3 linked regions of the Homo sapiens genome follow. The protein of the gene in region 1 interacts with the protein of each later gene in a pairwise test. Each region holds a gene or a part of one and is shown on either strand. Other genes may lie near its edges. The genes, in order: CLRN1, CTXN3 and TMEM222.

What was found.
Region 2: the proteins of CLRN1 (region 1) and CTXN3 interact in binary tests that used the Homo sapiens proteins (3 or more experiments, as listed by UniProt).
Region 3: the proteins of CLRN1 (region 1) and TMEM222 interact in binary tests that used the Homo sapiens proteins (3 or more experiments, as listed by UniProt).

What each region holds. Positions count from the first base shown.
Region 1 is NC_000003.12:150,969,822-150,974,195, reverse strand, and holds the start of CLRN1 (clarin-1), read left to right. Parts: upstream 1-1,468; 5' UTR 1,469-1,487; coding exon 1,488-1,740; intron 1,741-4,374. UniProt on the Homo sapiens protein: May have a role in the excitatory ribbon synapse junctions between hair cells and cochlear ganglion cells and presumably also in analogous synapses within the retina.
Region 2 is NC_000005.10:127,655,580-127,659,231, forward strand, and holds the end of CTXN3 (cortexin-3), read left to right. Parts: intron 1-1,843; 5' UTR 1,844-1,942; coding exon 1,943-2,188; 3' UTR 2,189-3,051; downstream 3,052-3,652.
Region 3 is NC_000001.11:27,325,088-27,328,739, reverse strand, and holds part of TMEM222 (transmembrane protein 222), read right to left. Parts: exon of another isoform or gene 2,215-3,652; intron 1-2,214.

The sequences.
Region 1 (4,374 bases):
TCCCAGCTCCACTACTCTCTTCAGCAAGTTGCTTAAACTCTCTGAGCCTCAATTCCCTTATATATAAGATACGAATAATTGCTTTTTCTTCTTCTTTCTTCTTTCTTATTCTTCTTCCTTCTTCCTTTCTCCTCCTCCTCCTCCTTCTTCTCCTCCTCCCTCCTCTTCTTCTTCCTCTTCTTCATTACTTTATATGCTAATTATGAGAATTACATATGATAATTTAGGTAGAATACTTCACAAGTTGCCAGACATAAGTTCTTACTAAACATTAACTTTGTAGGTCAGAGCTCAGGACAATAACATGGCATATAATAAACATTCACTAGACACTTCACACACACACACACACACACACACACACACACACACACACACACAGTCCTGTGTCTGTAGAAGGAGGAATCTCATTGGAAATGCAAAGTTAAAAAGCTGTTACTGAATTCTGAACTTTAGTTTCCAGGTCTTGACCGTTTAACCAGACCTACCTGCTGCTTAATCTTTGCTCATAACTGTCTCTAGTCTCCCAAACAGATTACCTTTGCTGAGACCTGTGCATTTTTATGATGAATCCATAGAGTCACCTATCTGACCACCATCCCTCTTTCCATCAATATGCCCTTATCTTTACAGATCCTGGTATTCCTTGGACCCAGAAACACATTCCCTTGCTATTATCCTAAAGCAGCTAAGCCTGTTAAAGGAAAGCATTTAGAAATCTAGATATCTGCTCCTGCATTTTCATATTTCTGTATGCCAAGAAAAATTTGAATCAAATTCTCTATTGATACATTAGGTATAAACCATGGATCTGGGAGAAATTAAGTTGGAAGGACAAGGACCCATGGTTGATCCAGAGCACTTAATATTCGTGTAGGACCAAATTCTGTTTAATATTTTTATCCTGCTGTAATTAAAAATTTTTGACATCAACTATCAATACAGGTACATATGTTCTCCCTACCTCTGCTAAAGCTCCTTCCCCCACCACCAAAAACAATAACAAACAAAAAACAAAAATAAAAACATCGATAAGTGAACTTCTCAAGTTGCTGAAAATGTACCATCAGATTCAAGCCTGTTTCTGAAAGTTTCAACTCACCCAATCAGACAAAAGGCTGAGGAAGGGAAACATTTATCAAGTTACACTGAGGACTCCATCTGTTATCTTCGACCTTTGTTACCAAGTGACACAGAGGAGATACTTGAAGGCAGTTTGAAAGACTTGTTTTACAGATTCTTAGTCCAAAGATTTCCAATTAGGGAGAAGAAGCAGCAGAAAAGGAGAAAAGCCAAGTATGAGTGATGATGAGGCCTTCATCTACTGACATTTAACCTGGCGAGAACCGTCGATGGTGAAGTTGCCTTTTCAGCTGGGAGCTGTCCGTTCAGCTTCCGTAATAAATGCAGTCAAAGAGGCAGTCCCTTCCCATTGCTCACAAAGGTCTTGTTTTTGAACCTCGCCCTCACAGAAGCCGTTTCTCATCATGCCAAGCCAACAGAAGAAAATCATTTTTTGCATGGCCGGAGTGTTCAGTTTTGCATGTGCCCTCGGAGTTGTGACAGCCTTGGGGACACCGTTGTGGATCAAAGCCACTGTCCTCTGCAAAACGGGAGCTCTGCTCGTCAATGCCTCAGGGCAGGAGCTGGACAAGTTTATGGGTGAAATGCAGTACGGGCTTTTCCACGGAGAGGGTGTGAGGCAGTGTGGGTTGGGAGCAAGGCCCTTTCGGTTCTCATGTAAGTAGCAATTGCATTTGAGTTATTTAATGCTTTAGGCAGACTCTTCCCAGTGTTGCGAGGAATTATATTTGAGAATTTTGCCGTGTTTACTGCAGGACTTTTTAAATCGGTGTGAACCATATGAAAAACCTATGACTCTGAGCAATTTCTTCTTCCTAGTTTTTATTATTTTATACTTGCTTTTTATTATAATATAGAGTTAATTCATTGTTACATAATTAAGGTTTTTGGAAATATTGGCAATTAAGATGCTTAAGTATTAATATTTATGTAAAAAATTATGGAGTCTTTTTAAAAAAGTAAACTTGGGGAAATAGGAAAGCTGTAAAGAATGATCTTTATGCTTTTTGTTCTTTATAAAAAGAACCAAGGTCATGGGCTCCGTATTTAACCAGGTTGCCACCTTTCTCATGATTTTGTTTCCTGCTCCCCACTCCCTCCCATTATTCCTGCTAAGACCTTTCCTGCTGCTAAATATTCAGTTTTCATTTTTAACTAATTTGGAATCATTTGGCTATAGAAATTTAAAATGATCTGCTGTGCTAACTGGGAAAGAAATGGATGCCTATTTAGTATAGAACATTTTAAACTGATTGACCTGCAAATCATGTAGAGAATATGAGAGAGATTTTCTTGTTGTGATTTTTGTGAAATGGAAGTGTAATCCACAGTATTTATAACCTGTTTATCTTAAGAAGAGAATTTTTAAAAATTACCATGTGAATAGGCAACTCATTAAATGAAAATTAATAGGAAGTCATTTGTTATATCTCTTACAACACACATTCAGAAGTTATTATTATTTCAGAAGGGCTGGTTTGGAACAACCTTATGAAGACACAGTCAGTAAATTACTGCATAAATCACTCTTCAGGAAAGGAGGTTACCAACTGAAGCATTTAAAATGAATTATTATTTTGCCCAGGTTTTTTTTTTCTTTCTAGTATAGGTAGAAGGCTAAATTAATTGAATTTATTATTAACATATGCAGTGCCTAATTAAATTTCAGTGCTGGTCTATTTATATTTCTGCAACATTCCTTATATCTTCTTAGCAGTCATTGGACACCAACCTTCAGCTCACATAGGTTACTAAGTGATATGAATTTTCATAGGGCTCCAGAAAATTTCCAAGAATTGGTTGTTAGCTTTTTAATTGATGAAGTGGATACCAGTTCTTTTCACTGAATGGCTTTTATTCATTAAGGTAATGGGGCTGTTAGAGTTGCTTAGTTTTCCTGGGGAAGGGGAAGGAAGAAAACAAAGCAGAATGTCATGTGATATGCAACTGTATTAAAAAACCGAAAAGGAAAAAAGTTGAGAGAGATGATTTAACCGTGAGTCACCGGCAGCCAAAGCGTGAGTAAAGCTTCTCACAGATGAATTTAGACAAAAGCGGAGAAGGTACTGGTGAATTTTCTGGAGCCTTTACATTTTCTACAGTGAAATGGAGATAAACTTTACTCATGCCATAGGACATGTTTCAAAACAATAATAAGATGTTTTCTGAACACTTACTACATACTAAGCACTTTATATGCTTTGTCTCATTTAATCCTTACACAGCCACATTCTTCTGGGGTTTAGCGAATGATTTTTGTGGTTGTGTCCTATGCTTGTCCTGTCTAAGGATGAAGTTGTTCTAATTGGGTGCCCCTCCTTTTGCTTTCTGTGAGGACTTGCAGAACTGGTGGGGTTTAAACAGTACCCTCACTTATCTCACAGAATTTCATTAGCTCCCAGATACCCCTGACATTCTCCCCCTAGCCTAGTGAAGAAAATCTTCCATTTACTTGTTCATTCTGCAGTGACAGCTCCATCAATATACAATAGACTATACATATTAAGTGTACTGTATATACTATACATGTTAAAAATCTCATTCATTTTGGTGAGGCCCAGCTAAGAATACTTACAGTAGAGCTTTTTTTTTTTTCCTAAGCATAAAAGTATCTTTTTCAATGCAGCATGAGACAGAGTTGGGAAAACCAAAATAAATAGATCCAATGGACTCCCCAAAGAGGATAATATTCATTTAAATAAACACCCCTCTCAGTGTTAAAACTTTCTAATCAACATGCCTTTGGGACACATTGCACCCTCAAAGTTTACACTCCCATTGCAACGCAGCTTTGTGGTTCACGTTTTTTCCATTCAGAATGTCATTACCCTGTCAATGATGTTTCATCAACGTTTGCTTGGATGAGAATCCTCTGATATTCTTCCTGATAGAAATGTATAAGCCCTGTTCATATAAATGAATAAAAGATCTAACCTTACTTTCTCAGTAGTGGCTTCCTTGGAGCAAAAAGCAGGGACCTCCAGAGAGCTCAGGTGGATGACTCTTTTCTGTTTCTTCCAGAGCTCAACTTACAATTAGTGCACAATTCATTTCCCAGAATGTCTTCTTTCTTATTGTGCCTTTAGAAAGTTATTAAGCAAACATTTGAATTCACAGAATCTTACCAGTGTAAGAGGAATGGAAAAGGTAACTTATCAAGGTAACAATCACTTCGTGGCCAGTTTTTTCGGCTCACTGCAACTACCCCTCCTGGGTTCAAGCGATTCTCCTGCCTCAGCCTCCCAAGTAGCTGGGACTACAGGCGTGCACCACCATGCCCAGCTAATTTTT
Region 2 (3,652 bases), on another chromosome or scaffold:
CCTGGTCTGATGTGCTGAGGAGACCTGCATTGGAGGCTCTGGCCTCCCTTCCTGCCCCTCCCTTCCTGGCCCACAAGGAATTAATACCCAAGGCTAGGAGGGTGCTTAGAAACAAGCAAACCAAAACAAAACCCAGTGCATTAATATCCTCTAAATTCCTAAAGAGCTTATTTTTTTAAAATGCGGTCAAATTTTTATCCCAATCTTACTTCCAAACAAACATGAATTATAAATGAGTTTTGCAACTGTTATAGCCTTTAAAAAAATTCAAAGTGATAGAGCTGCAAAAATGATGCATTACCCGACTGGTAACTCCTTCCTCCCAGATCCTGGCTGGGATCCCCCTTATAAATTGTTTTTTAAACTGTAATTTTACAAACTTTGAAGTGTCAATATAATGCAAACTGTTATGCTATGATTACTAATGCTGTACTTGAAGGCAATGATTATAAGTTAACTGAAGGAACATTGTATTGATGCTTTAGGTCACATATTCTATTTTTATTTGGTTATTTTCATTGAGCAAAATTTATTTTGTGTCCGTGTTAATTTCCGTAGCTAATTACTGTGCTTTGTAATTTTTATTATAAATAAATTCATAATAAATATCATTTAATTTTCTATATAGTAGTAGTGTCTAATGTATATACTTTTATTTACGATGTGATTTAAGTAGATTTCGTTCAGTATCTGAAGCTTTTAACGACCTCTGTGTATACTTGTCATGTATATACTTGTATATTTATACGGTAATATACACTTGTATATTTATACAGTAATATCTACATATCTAAGTTTTTCCACCAGTAAAATTAAAATAGTGTTAGCTTGTCCTTTTCCTTCTCTTCCTCTCTACTGAATAGTCTTAAATGGTAGGAAGCCACTCTAAGGAAAACTGTCCTTTTGAAAATATGCATCGATCAATTCCTTTCTCTTGGCTTAATTCTCTAGGTGCTTCCCAGGGTCAAGTATTGAACCTGGTCTTTGTTTTCTGAGGAAAAAAGAAAAAGCAGCAGTAACTTGATAGTTTGGGAGACTGAGATACCTCCGTTCTCCCTTGGCTCAGGCAGTAGAAAGGAAAGGAGAAGCAGCATAGCTCCCTTAGTTGTGTCTTAGGTGAAGCAACACTTGGCTTTGTTTGTTTTTCTTTTTTGTATACTTTTCAAAGGGTTTTCACAGCTCTTCATCCTTATTACAGCACCATGAAAGATGCAGGCATTGCTACTTGCATTTTTACAGCTTAGTGACCTCTCCAAGGTCCCACACCCGTTTTGCAGTAGAGTGGAGCCCGGAGCCCAGAACCCAATGCTCCTGGAGAAGGTTTCTATTTTAAGCACCTTTTCTAGCCTCAGTTTCCTTGCACTGGGGCTAAAGAGATCCCTGCTTTCGTGAAGCTTGCAGTAAAGTGGCTAACATGTTTCAAGTTTAGCCACTGTGCTGACACATAGCTGAGGCTCCCTCAATGGCGCTATCGTAAGAACAATGTGAGAGTAATATTAGTGGAGCAGAGCAGGAGGAGACTTGGCAGGGGAGGCTGGGTTCAGATGTCAAGTTGACAGTACACCCTGAGGTCAATATTACTGTGCACATTTCTCATCTTCTATATTATAGTCGTATTCCCTGCCCATCCCTCCTGGCCCCAGGTGGCTCTTCTGAGAACAATCTGGTAATTTCATGCAAGAGTAAAATATCTTTCCCGATAATTATACAGAATTGAGCATCTCTGGTGAAAAAGAAAGCTGGTTTACAGATTTCTTTTTCTCTCTGAAAAATATGACTGTGAACCTAAAAAAATAAGGCTGCTATTTTATAGGTATTCCTTTCCCTTCCTTTTTCCCTGCAGATAACTCAGCCTCTCCAGAGTGCAGCCACCATGACCTCCGCAGATTGATGATGGAAGAAAAGAAAACCAGGATATCCTGTGCTCTGGCTTCCCTGGACCATGGATGGAGGACAGCCCATCCCCTCATCCCTAGTGCCCCTTGGGAACGAATCAGCAGATTCTAGCATGTCCCTGGAGCAGAAAATGACATTTGTTTTTGTGATTCTGTTGTTTATTTTCTTGGGCATTCTCATTGTCCGGTGCTTCCGGATTCTTTTGGATCCATATCGAAGCATGCCAACCTCTACCTGGGCTGATGGACTTGAAGGCCTGGAGAAAGGGCAGTTCGACCATGCCCTTGCTTAGGAGGGATGGTGTGGGATCTCCTCCTGAGGAGATGAAGTGCTTTGTGTCTTGGTGAGGATTCCCTTTATTTAGTGTTCTCAACAAATCAAATTTAAACAATATTTGGTCCCAGGACCATAATCCATTATTCCATAAATATGCAGTTGGGTTAAAGACATTTGAGGATGTTGGAAATGGACACTTATATAACTAATCCAACATAAGAAGGTTTAAATTTTTATGTTTGCTCAATGAATGAGTACTCTTAAAATTGTGTGATTGTGAAACCAAGAGCGTTAATACTGACATAGATTTGCCATCAAACAAAACACCACCTGATCTGACTAAAGAATAAAAGACTAGAAAGGATCTCATATGAATCTGGTGACAAGGCCAGGAAGAGATTTCCTTGCTCTAATTATGTCTATATTTGTTTTATTTCATGGGCACCTATCTGGGTCCTGAGCAGAATGAGGAAGATTGTGCTGAATGGACCCAAAGTAGTTTCTTGTTTTCTCCCAAAGCAGGGAGCTTTGGGAAGCAATGGAAAAGCTTAAAAGAGATGATTCTGTCCTTGGTAAATGTGAGTGAGAATAGCGTTTTGTTTTTCAAGTAAAACTTAATTCAAAGGCTACAAAGTTTTAAAAACTATTTACCAAGCCAACTACATTATATGTATTCATATTAATAACATGTGTAGAGGTAGCTATACATTACTTGAATTTACACTTTACACAAATGATTTAAAAAATAGGTTGCAAGTGCAGCTTAAAGTTTTTTTTCAATGAAAAGTTAATTGTTTAGAGGAGAAGACTTTTATAGTCTTCAGAGGAATGTGTATTTATGATTGTATATAGTCACCAAATAAAACTTTTCAAGAAACAGAAATGCTTCCTCTCTTATTTCACCAGAACTAATGCACTGAGGGTGCTACCTGGTATTAAGTGCTGAGGCTTAACATTTTTCCAAGAGAGGAGAAAAGAGTTAACAGCATGAAAGCTCATCTAATTCATCCCTCTCCCATTTCAAGAAGAGCTCCTATAAATTGTCCTGCACAGACAAAACCGATAGTTTTTAAGACCACCAAAAAGGGAGATGTGAATACCTCTTATTCCAACTTTTGTTGGAAGGAAAAGCTTGTGTCTAAACCAACCCTGCAGATAACTCAGCCTAAACCAACCCCGTTAGGCTGTATTTATAATCTATGTCTTCTAGTTTTCTCCTCAGCTAGTCATTACCTTTTTTGATTAAAAAAAGCACACTTCTTTAACCTATTAATTATAAGATTTTCTTTTTCTTTCAAATGTACTGTGTCATGTGTGTCCTCATTAATTTTTTTTTGTATTTTTGTTAGAGTCTATTCAAACCCACTCATGTATTTATGGAGCTCCTGCTTTGAGCCTGGAATTGCTAGCACTAGAAAGACAGAAAACACACAGGGCCAGTTCTTAATGTTGAATACTTTTCTATCTTGTTGGATGGAGA
Region 3 (3,652 bases), on another chromosome or scaffold:
CACAACATCAACAGGCAGAAAACAACACTGCAGAGCAAGAAAGTGGTACATGTGCCTGGAAGAACGAAAGGGGGAGAGGCCAGCTCAGGGGCTACTGCTGTACCACTGGCAAGAGATGATGGAGGTCCTGACTAGAGGATCAGGGGCAGGGTGGTGAGAAACACATGGATTCAAAAGATCTTTCAAATGAAGACTGGAGAGTTTACGACTGACAGGATGGGGGTCTTCCAGGTCTACAGCTTGAGCGCTTGAGACAATGGTAGGGCCAGAGTGGTCTTTTGAGAATTGAACTCAGATTCCATCATTCCCCTGTTCAACACCTATTAATGGCTTCCTACTACACTTATAATACACTTCGAACTTCTTCCAACACTGTGGTGCTAATTATCCCTTGAACTTCATCTCAGTCCCCTCTCTAGCTACACTGCCTGCTTGTGGCCTCAAACACGCCAAATCCTCCCACCCCATGCTTTCTCTGTATCTGCCCTCTCCTCCGTCTGGAACACTCTTCCCAGAGAGCATGGCACAGCTGACTCCTCACTGATTAGGCCTCAGCCTCACTGTCACCTTCGGAGGTCTTGCCTGAACGGTGTCTTCCAGCACAGCCACCCAATCCCAGATCCCACTACAATGCTTTACTTCCCTCATAGTATCTACTACCATCCAAAATTATCTTGGTTATTTATATGCTGTCTCTCCACTAGAACATAAGCTCCAAGAGAGACAGGATTTTTTCTTGTTTACTACGGCAGTGCCTGTATATAGCTGCAACTCACTAAATATTTGTTGACTAAATAATGAATGAACATCCTGCATTTAAGAGTAGAGTCTGGGGCTGGGTGCTGTGGCTCACGCCTGTAATCATAGCACTTTGGAAGGCCAAGGCAGTTGGATTGCTTGAGCCCAGGAATTTGAGACCAGCCTGGGCAACACAGTGAGACCCTGTATCTAAAAAAATCTAAAAATTAGCTGGAGGATCACTTGATCCAAGGAAGTTGAGGCTGTAGTGAGCCAAGGCTGGGCCCAGGAAGTTGAGGCTGCAGTGAGTCAAGGCTGGGCTCAGTGGCTCACGCCTGTAATCCCAGCACTTTGGGAGGCAGAGGCCGGTGGATGACTTGAGGTCAGGAGTTCGAGACCAGCCTGGGAAACATGGCGAAACCCTGTCTATACTAAAAATACAAAAATTAGATGGGCATGGTGGCATGTGCCTGTAATCCCAGCTACTCGAGAGGCTGAGGCACGAGAATCACTTGAACCCCGGAGGCGGAGGATGCAGTGAGCTGAGATCACGCCACTGCATTCCAGCCTGGGTGACAGAGCAAGACTCTGTCTCTAAATAAATAAATAAATAAAAATTAAAAACAACAAACAAACGCCAACAGTGAAGTCATGCTCAGATATCATCTGGGTTGAGGCTTGCCTTTGTTCTGGGCAAGTTACTAATTCCCATCTCTCTGTGGATAGTAAAAATTACCTTAATGAGGAGCTATTGTGAGGATTAAATGGATAGACTTATCCATTTACACAGTGCCTAGGACTCTGCCTTCCGCTTGGCAGCTGCTCAATGTTGTCATCTCGAGGTGTTCAATACATAAGCACTATCTGACTGACTGCACTAACATAGAATAAGTTGCAGAAGATCCACAGGCCACAGGATGGACATTCAGGATTATGGGAAAGTAGCTCATCCTGATCTCAGGACTGCCCTCCACCCCCATCTCTGCCCCCTAATCCTTTCATCTGCTTGGGAGGAAGTCTGGGTCCAACCAGGATTCCACACGCCACAGCTGTGCTGGCAGCAGTGGATGGAAATCAGAGTAAAGGCTGGAAGCCCCAGAGAAGAAACCCTCAAAGTGGTTTGTCAGCCTGGAAGCTCCAGGAAGGCAGCTCCAGAGCCGCTTTGTGGACTACCTTCTATTCAGGACCTAGTACATAATAGGTGCTTTATAAAGATACAATAAATGAATAAATGACTCACTCATCCTGGAGCTCAATCTGGGAAGGTAGGCTAACTCAGCAAAAGAGCACCACACTGGCTTCTAAGCCTTACTTCCTCATCTATAAAATGGTGACAACAGTATCTACTTTCATAGGTTGACATTAGGATTGAGTGAGTGAACATACAATGTTTAGGACAGAGTAAGCATCTAATCTTAGCTGTTTTTATTAGTAGCAGCAGCTATTAAACTAGTTTCTTTTTTTTCCCTTTTTTTTGGTTACAGCAGCACTTTTATTTTTCCTTACACAATGACATGCCGCTGGGGCCTAATGTTCTCACATAACAGTAGAAAACCAAAATCTGTTCTCATCTCCTTAAAGAATCGAGAATTGCATACAAAAAAAAACCTTACATAAATTAAAAGGATGAATACATTTACAGGTGTAAATGCAAACTGCTTCCAACTCAAAGCAAGTCACAGCCCACAGTGTTCTGGCAGGAAAACATCAGCTAAGAAAGGAAACTGGGTCCTATGGCTTGGCCTTTCCAACCCTGACAGACCAGCAGGACAGAAACAACTGGTTCAGGAGCCCTTGTCAGCCTCTAGAGAAATCCCAGAACACTCAGCCATGACATATTAATACCCTGCAAAGATCGGAGACTGCTGGCCATGCAGACTCACCAAGTCGCACTTGTCTTCCACAAGCACATTCTTACCTTGCCACGCAGTGACCAAGCCACATGTACTAAGGGTTGAAAGCAAAGATATGTACAGGGTATTAAACAAATACCAAGGGGAACAGTTAACTTGAATACAAGGTCAAAATCAGCAACAAGTTCTACAATCCAGTGCTGATATTAGATACAAGCTTCAACGACAATTTCTTTTCGAAGGCTTATTCCATTTTCGTGAGGCTAGCATGAGGTATATGCATTTGCCAGGGCCAATTTATACTTCTGAATTAACCCATGCAGCAAATGCTACGCATCGGCTCGCAGTCCATTTAGAAGCATTTGCGGTGGACGATACAGGGGCCTGACTCGTCATACTCCTGCTTGCTAATCCACATCTGCTGGAAGGTGGACAGTGAGGCCAGGATGGAGCCGCTGATCCACACAGAGTACTTGCACTCTGGGGGCACAATGAGCTTGATCTTCATGGTGCTGGATGCCAGGGCGTTAATCTCCTTCTGCATCCTGTCGGTGATGCCCGGGTACATGGTGGTGCCTCTGGATAGCCCTATGTTGGTGTACAGGTCTTTGCGGATGTCTACGTCACACTTCATGATGGAGTTGAACGTGGTCTCGTGGATGCCGCAAGATTCCATACCCAGGAAGGAAGGCTGGAACAGCGCCTCCGGACACTGGAACCGCTTGTTGCTGATGGTGATGACCTGGCCATCCGGCAGCTTGTAGCTCTTCTCCAGGGAGGAGGATGTGGTAGTGGCCATCTCCTGCTCGAAGTCCAGGGAGACAAAAATATGGAACGCTTCACGAATCTGCATGTCATCCTTGCGCAGGGGCCATGCTAATCTTCTCTGTATCGTTCCAATTTTAGTATATGTGCTGCTGAGGCGAGCACTAAACTGGTTTTTCATGCAGAATTACCAACATCTCTGAGGGGGTAGACAGATCTTTGGGTTCCATTTCCTCCTCTGATCTCTCCTCCAAAGACAGGTGACAGTTACTTGCGCCACATCTATGCCTAGCTCT